2 linked regions of the Homo sapiens genome follow. The protein of the gene in region 1 purifies or fractionates together with the protein of each later gene. This does not show direct contact. Each region holds a gene or a part of one and is shown in the gene's direction. Other genes may lie near its edges. The genes, in order: TRIL and MLLT11.

Region 1 (4,408 bases):
TATTAGGGAAGCTGAGGTGGGCAGATCACTTGAGCCCTGGAGGTCATGGCTGCATTGAACGGAGATTATGCCACTGCACTCCAGCCTGGGCAACAGAGTGAGATCCCACCTCAAAAAAAATAATTTTTGTTTTTGTGGTGTTCTCTATTACTGCCTTATATTATTATCTAACCTTTCAATGCATTCATTGCCCTTCCCACTAGATTGTCATTGTCTTCAGGTGAGGATCTGTATCTTTCCTTTAATTTTCCACATTGTTGCAGAGTACGTCCTCAAAACTTACGTTTTCTCAACACCTTGGATAGGGGAAGGGCCCTTATTTTTTAGCAAGATGGTTTATATAAAGAAACAATAATTAATAATTAACAACTCCTCCTTGTGTATTCTCATTCTCAGCAGGGGCTGATCCCAAAGGAGCCGTTGATTAAATGCTCCATTCCCTAGAGATAATAAATAATAATGCTTCCCCAACTGAGCCAGGCCTGAACATTTTTGGGCCTAAAGACTTTGAAGATCACTGCAAGTCCAGGCGTAAAGCAGGAGGGCCCTGCAAGGAACGTTTACCTTAGGATCTGTGAAGGTTATTATGTATGTGCACACGAGCAGAGCCTACCCCAGGGGCTCTATTACTGTAGGAGAGTTAATGCGACTGAATCACCAAAATGTGGCAGAGACACTTTCATGTTGGCAGAACCAGTTCTGTGATTTCTTCATGTTCTAGCCCACAGCAGGATGGAGTAAATACTCCCTTCAGACACCTAAAAGGGGGTGGTGCCTCTCCTCAGCTACTAGTCCAACGACGTCAAAACCCAAGCAGCAACTGTCAGACTGGGTTCACCTACCCCCTTCTGATGGCCTTCTGCAGGCAACCTTGTGCTCCCCCAAACTTCCTGTAGAATGCTGGCGGACTCCGTGCTGCCCAAACTTCCCGCAGGGTGGCACCTGGAAGAGCAAGTGACTTAACAACGAGGAAGGCCAGGCGCGCTCCCACTGCTCAGAAGCGGCTGGTGTACTCGTCTAAAATAAAAAGGTCTCTGTCTGCAAATCCCGTTTGCTAGCCCGGTAATCCTCCCCCGCCCCCGGCCTAGCGTGTCCGGCCCGTACAGCTGTTTTTAATCCCTACTTTTCTCACTTGGCATCCCGGGCCCGGGCTGACCAGACGCGGAGCCACTTAGTGTTTCCTCCTCCCCCTGCCGGGGTCTGTCCTCCCTCTGCCGTCTCCTCTTTCTCCGCCTGCGTCCCCGCGGGCAGAGTGTGGGAAGAACGAATTTCCGCCCCGTTTGCTCTCCGCTCGCAGACTTGGGTCCCTTCCGGACGCAGCCCGCGTGCTCCCCGAGCTATTGCACTGGAGCCGCCCTCCCCGTCCGGGACCGCGAGCGAGAAGGTGCCGTCTGCGGGGGCCGAGCAGCCGGGGCTCTGCTGCCAAGCCGCGCCCCGCGAAGCTCTTGGAACGGCTCCCGCCTGCAGCTGGGGAATCCACTCGGCTGGGAGAATCCGCGCCAGGGAATCCAGCTCTCCGGACTCAGCTGCAAACAAAAAGCGCCGGGTCTTGCTCCCTCCTCCCGCCCGCCGACGCGCACCCGGAGAAACAGTTTTATACAGAAATGCAACAAGTAGTACCCGGGGTCTGCAGAGCGCCCCGCGCCGCCTGACTTGGCCGGGCGAAGCCCGCCTGCAGAGACCCGGGCCGGCCTCCGGACAAAGGACGGAGGAGGGGCTGGACGGCGCTGCGAAGTCCGAAAGAGGCCATTTAGCGACTCTGGCCAGGCTAAGGGGAATGCAGAGGAGACACAGAGCCGGCGGGCCAAGAGGACGATCCGGCCGCTGCACGCAGGGCGGGAGGCGATGGAGGCTGCCCGCGCCTTGCGCCTCCTGCTCGTGGTGTGCGGCTGCCTCGCGCTCCCGCCGCTGGCCGAGCCCGTGTGCCCGGAGCGCTGCGACTGCCAGCATCCCCAGCATCTCCTGTGCACCAACAGGGGGCTCCGCGTAGTGCCCAAGACCAGCTCGCTGCCGAGCCCCCACGACGTGCTCACCTACAGCCTCGGCGGCAACTTCATAACCAACATCACGGCCTTCGACTTCCACCGTCTGGGGCAGCTCAGACGGCTGGACCTGCAGTACAACCAGATCCGCTCTCTGCACCCCAAGACCTTCGAGAAGCTCTCGCGGCTGGAAGAGCTGTACCTGGGGAACAACCTCTTGCAGGCGCTCGCCCCGGGCACGCTGGCCCCGCTGCGCAAGCTGCGCATCCTCTACGCCAACGGGAACGAGATCAGCCGCCTAAGCCGCGGCTCCTTCGAGGGCCTGGAGAGTCTAGTCAAGCTGCGGCTGGACGGGAACGCCCTGGGGGCGCTGCCGGACGCGGTCTTCGCTCCCTTGGGCAACCTGCTCTACCTACATCTGGAGTCCAACCGGATCCGCTTTCTGGGCAAGAACGCCTTCGCCCAGCTAGGCAAGCTGCGCTTCCTCAACCTCTCTGCCAACGAGCTACAGCCCTCCCTGCGCCACGCGGCCACCTTCGCACCGCTGCGCTCCCTCTCCTCCCTCATCCTCTCGGCCAACAACCTGCAGCACCTCGGGCCGCGCATCTTCCAGCACCTGCCACGTCTCGGCCTGCTCTCGCTCAGGGGCAACCAGCTCACGCACCTCGCGCCTGAGGCCTTTTGGGGCTTGGAGGCCCTGCGCGAGCTGCGCCTGGAGGGTAATCGGCTGAGCCAGCTGCCAACTGCGCTGCTGGAGCCTCTGCACAGCCTGGAGGCGCTGGACCTGAGCGGCAATGAGCTGTCCGCCCTGCACCCGGCCACCTTCGGCCACCTGGGCCGGCTGCGCGAGCTCAGCCTGCGCAACAACGCGCTCAGCGCCCTATCCGGGGACATCTTCGCCGCCAGCCCAGCCCTTTATCGGCTGGATCTAGACGGCAACGGCTGGACCTGCGACTGCCGGCTGCGAGGCCTGAAGCGCTGGATGGGCGACTGGCACTCGCAGGGCCGGCTCCTCACTGTCTTCGTGCAGTGTCGCCACCCCCCGGCCCTGCGAGGCAAATACCTGGATTACCTGGATGACCAGCAGCTGCAAAATGGATCCTGCGCGGATCCCTCGCCCTCAGCTTCCCTGACCGCTGACCGCAGGCGGCAGCCCCTACCCACGGCCGCAGGGGAGGAGATGACGCCACCTGCAGGTCTCGCGGAGGAGCTGCCGCCGCAGCCGCAGCTCCAGCAGCAGGGGCGATTTCTAGCTGGGGTGGCCTGGGATGGGGCCGCCAGGGAGCTGGTAGGCAACCGCAGCGCCCTAAGGCTGAGTCGGCGGGGCCCGGGCCTCCAGCAGCCCAGCCCCTCCGTCGCTGCCGCCGCGGGCCCGGCTCCACAGTCCCTAGACCTGCACAAGAAGCCCCAGCGGGGCCGTCCGACTCGGGCAGATCCCGCCCTCGCGGAGCCCACCCCAACGGCCTCTCCTGGCTCTGCGCCATCGCCCGCCGGCGACCCCTGGCAGCGCGCGACGAAGCATCGTCTGGGCACGGAGCACCAGGAGCGTGCCGCCCAGTCCGACGGTGGGGCCGGGCTGCCGCCGCTGGTGTCCGACCCATGCGACTTCAACAAGTTCATTCTGTGCAACCTGACGGTGGAGGCGGTGGGCGCAGACAGCGCCTCGGTGCGCTGGGCCGTGCGCGAGCACCGCAGTCCCCGGCCGCTGGGCGGCGCGCGCTTCCGCCTGCTCTTTGACCGCTTTGGCCAGCAGCCCAAGTTCCACCGCTTCGTCTACCTGCCTGAGAGCAGCGACTCGGCCACGCTGCGCGAGCTGCGCGGGGACACCCCCTACCTGGTGTGCGTGGAGGGCGTGCTTGGGGGCCGTGTCTGCCCTGTGGCTCCCCGGGACCACTGCGCGGGGCTGGTCACCCTACCGGAGGCCGGGAGCCGGGGCGGCGTCGACTACCAGCTGCTGACCTTGGCCCTGCTGACGGTCAACGCGCTGCTGGTGCTCCTGGCCTTGGCGGCCTGGGCGTCTCGCTGGCTGCGTAGGAAACTGCGGGCTAGGCGGAAGGGCGGGGCCCCGGTCCACGTTCGGCACATGTACTCCACCCGACGGCCCCTGCGCTCCATGGGCACCGGCGTGTCCGCCGACTTCTCGGGATTCCAGTCGCACCGGCCACGCACCACCGTGTGCGCGCTCAGTGAGGCGGACCTCATCGAATTCCCCTGCGACCGCTTCATGGACAGTGCGGGCGGCGGCGCGGGCGGCAGCCTGAGACGGGAGGACCGTCTCCTGCAGCGATTTGCCGACTAGGTCCAGGGCATATAGAGACCATCTCATTGGCCCTAAGGAGCCGCCTCTCCGTGAGGCCCACCAGCCCACCTCAGGGGAAGTGCCGTTTTGTGCACTTGCCAGAGAGGCCGGTGGGGACAGAGGGCCA
Region 2 (3,632 bases), on another chromosome or scaffold:
ATCAATTTGATGCAATAGATGGTAAATAAGTCATTCCAAGATGGGAAGTTTAGAAAATAGTAGAAATTCGGCCGGGCGCGGTGGCTCACACCTGTAATCCCAGCACTTTGGGAGGCCGAAGCAGGCAGATCACGAGGTCAGGAGATCGAGACCATCCTGGCTAACATGGTGAAACCCCGTCTCTACTAAAAAATACAAAACATTGGCCGGGCGTGGTGGTGGGCACCTGTAGTCCCAGATACTCGGGAGGCTGAGGCAGGAGAATGGTGTGAGCCCAGGAGGTGGAGCTTGCAGTGAGCCAAGATCGTGCCACTGCACTCCAGCCTGGGCGACAGAGCAAGACTCCGTCTCATTGAGAGAAAAAAAAAAAAAAAGTAGAAATTCATAATAAAGGGTTTCTGAAGCTTGTCCAAGGGAACTTGGATTCTCTCCAGAGGCAATTGGGGATGGTGAGTTTCTTTTTTTTCCTCCCCAAATTCCTTTTTACTGGTGGGATTGGAGGATATACAATTTTCTTTCTTTAATAGAAAAAAAAAAAAAAAAGAAATTCCTTTTTACCAGTATGTGGAGTATCTAAGCAAGGAAAGGCCATGGGCCACAAAGAAGTTGCTGTAGCATGAAGACTGACAAGTGGTTTCTTTCTAGGAAGCTATGAGGGACCCTGTGAGTAGCCAGTACAGTTCCTTTCTTTTCTGGAGGATGCCCATCCCAGAACTGGATCTGTCGGAGCTGGAAGGCCTGGGTCTGTCAGATACAGCCACCTACAAGGTCAAAGACAGCAGCGTTGGCAAAATGATCGGGCAAGCAACTGCAGCAGACCAGGAGAAAAACCCTGAAGGTGATGGCCTCCTTGAGTACAGCACCTTCAACTTCTGGAGAGCTCCCATTGCCAGCATCCACTCCTTCGAACTGGACTTGCTCTAAGGCCAAGACTTCTCTCTCCCATCACCTTGCCCTCATTGTCTTCCCTCTCAAGCCCCTTCCTTTCCACTCCTTTCCCATTTTAATCTTGTTCTCTCCCTACTGTGTTGGTGGTGCTGATGAATCTGCCAGAGTTGAGTTCTATGTATTTATTTATCTATCTGTCTACTCCATTTCTCTCAAAAGCCCTCAAGTCACAAAGTAAATGGTTCAAGCAATGGAGTACTGGGTCACAGGGATTCCTCCTTTCCCCCCCAAATATTAACTCCAGAAACTAGGCCTGACTGGGGACACCTGAGAGTAGTATAGTAGTGCAAAATGGAAGACTGATTTTTGACTCTATTATAATCAGCTTCAGAGATTCCTTAAACCTTCCTAATTTCCTGCTCCAGGGCAGTAAACACAAATATTTCTTCAAGGGGTGATGAAAACCTCGGAAGTTTTAATTTGAGGTTATCTGCTACGAAACAGTATTTCTAAAAGGCTAAAGTGATAAGTCTCTTGCTTTTTTTTGATCCTGCTCTTATATTCTTTTTTTTCCTCAGAGAAATCAGGAGGGTAGTTAGAGGTATAAAACAGGAGGAAATATTATGGAAAATGAAAATAGGGAAAATAATTGAATCATTTTAGAAGTAGCTAATTTCTTTTCTCAAAAGAGTGTCCCTTCTTCACACCTACTCACTTTACAACTTTGCTCCTAACTGTGGGTTGAAAACTCTAGCTAAAGAAAGTTATCAAATCTTAACATGCATTCCTACTATTATGATAGTTTTTAAGGTTTCAATTCAATCTTCTGAACGGCATAAGTCCTATTTTAGCCTTACCTCCTGCATTTGCAATACGTAATACTGATCAGTGGGCACAGTTCTTCAGCTACATTGAGACCCTGAAATGAACAATTATATTCTGACTCGACATCTTGTCCCCAATCCTTCCAAAAATATTGATGGTGATTTGTGCTACCATTTACTCGTTTATTTAATAAAGACATTCAATCCCAGGACTGGAGTCTAATTTTCTCTCTTCACAAGAAAAGCCACAGAAATCTGAGAAATTAGCCTTGCTTTCACACTTAGCTTATACATCTTTTTTTTCTTTTTTATTTTTGAGACAGGGTCCCACTCTGTCACCCAGGCTGGAGTGCAGTGGCGGGGATCACCGCTCACTGCAACCTCCACCCACCAGGGTCAAGGGATCCTCCCACCTCAGGCTCCCAGGTAGCTGGGATTACAGGCGCCTGCCACCAGGCCTGGTTAATTTTTGTATTTTTCATAGAGACGGGGTTTCACCATGTTGGCCAGGCTGGTCTCTAACTCCTGACCTCAGGTGATCTGCCCGCCTTAGCCTCTCAAAGTGCTGAGATTACAGGCGTGAGCCACTGAGCCCGGCCTCATTTTATCTTTCTATAATAATATTCAACTTAGAGGAAGAATGATTTGAGTAGCATTTAGACATTAGATGGTGAACTTCGCATTGAACAGATAATGAAAGGGCAAAATCAACTTAAAATTAGAAAAGTAGTTAGGGAGACAGGTACAACCACTCTTCTGCTTGCCCACTGACTACCAACATTATATTTCAGGTAATAATTCTCCTAGGTGCCTAAGAAGATAAACGAATTCACTCAAATATGTTATCTGCTTAACTTCTGGTTTTTGTGTGCCTGCTATAGGAAAGCACTGAGCCAAACAGAATGTAAACGGGAATGAGACAAGACTCCAACTCTCAAAAGAGAAACTGTAAATACCAATATGGATAGGACAGAATTGGGCAGTGTACTATAAATAAGGATGACACTATACCCTAAATAAGGATGATCTAGAGAAGTCCCCAGGTGGGAGAAAAAAAGACAAATCCTCCCTCTAGGCCATGAAAAGCCCACATCTAAAGACGGTCCCAGTCTAACGAAGAATGGGGCCAGGAAGGATAAGTAGTGCGTCCTTTTCTATTTTTACTGAGTTTTGAAGGGCCCCTTCAGAGTCCTTCAGCCATGGCAATTGGTGGGTGGAGACAGGGATCAACTGTTTGGTAAATAAAGTGACTAAATGGATTTGCAAACTCATGCTCCATCCTCTTGCAGGCCTCCAAAAAGAAATGACTCAGGCCGGGCGCGGTGGCTCACGCCTGTAATCCCAGCACTTCGGGAGGCCGAGGCGGGCCAATCACTTGAGGTCAGGAGTTCGAGACCAGCCTGGCCAACATGGTAAAATAAAACCCCATCTCTACTAAAAATACAAAAATTAGCCCAGCGTGGTGGCGGACGCCTGTAATCCCAGCTGCTGGGGAGGCTGAGGCAGGACAATCACTTGAACCCGGGAGGCAGAGGTTGCAGCGAACCGAGGTCACGCCACTGCACTTCAGCCTGGGCGACGGACGAAGCGAGACTCCGTCTCAAAAAAAAAAGGCCGCGCGCGGTGGGTCACGCCTGTAATCCCAGCACTTTGGGAGGCCGAGGCGGGTGGATCACGATGTCAGGAGATCGAGACCATCCTAGCTAACACGGTGAAACCCCGTCTCCACTAAAAATACAAAAAAATCTCCGGGCGTGGTGGCGGGCGCCTGCAGTCCCAGCTACTCCGGAGGCTGAGGCAGGAGAATGGCGTGAGCCCGGGAGACGGAGCATGCAGCGAGCCGAGATCGAGCCACTGCACTCCAGCCTGGGCGACAGAGCGAGACTCCGTCTCAAAAAAAAAAAAGAAAGAAAGAAAAGA

What was found.
Region 2: the proteins of TRIL (region 1) and MLLT11 purify together in Homo sapiens (co-immunoprecipitation; one study listed by IntAct). This does not show direct contact.

What each region holds. Positions count from the first base shown.
Region 1 is NC_000007.14:28,955,484-28,959,891, reverse strand, and holds the start of TRIL (TLR4 interactor with leucine rich repeats precursor), read left to right. Parts: upstream 1-1,561; 5' UTR 1,562-1,845; coding exon 1,846-4,281; 3' UTR 4,282-4,408. UniProt on the Homo sapiens protein: Component of the TLR4 signaling complex. Mediates the innate immune response to bacterial lipopolysaccharide (LPS) leading to cytokine secretion.
Region 2 is NC_000001.11:151,066,574-151,070,205, forward strand, and holds the end of MLLT11 (protein AF1q), read left to right. Parts: intron 1-645; 5' UTR 646-651; coding exon 652-924; 3' UTR 925-2,971; downstream 2,972-3,632. UniProt on the Homo sapiens protein: Cofactor for the transcription factor TCF7. Involved in regulation of lymphoid development by driving multipotent hematopoietic progenitor cells towards a T cell fate.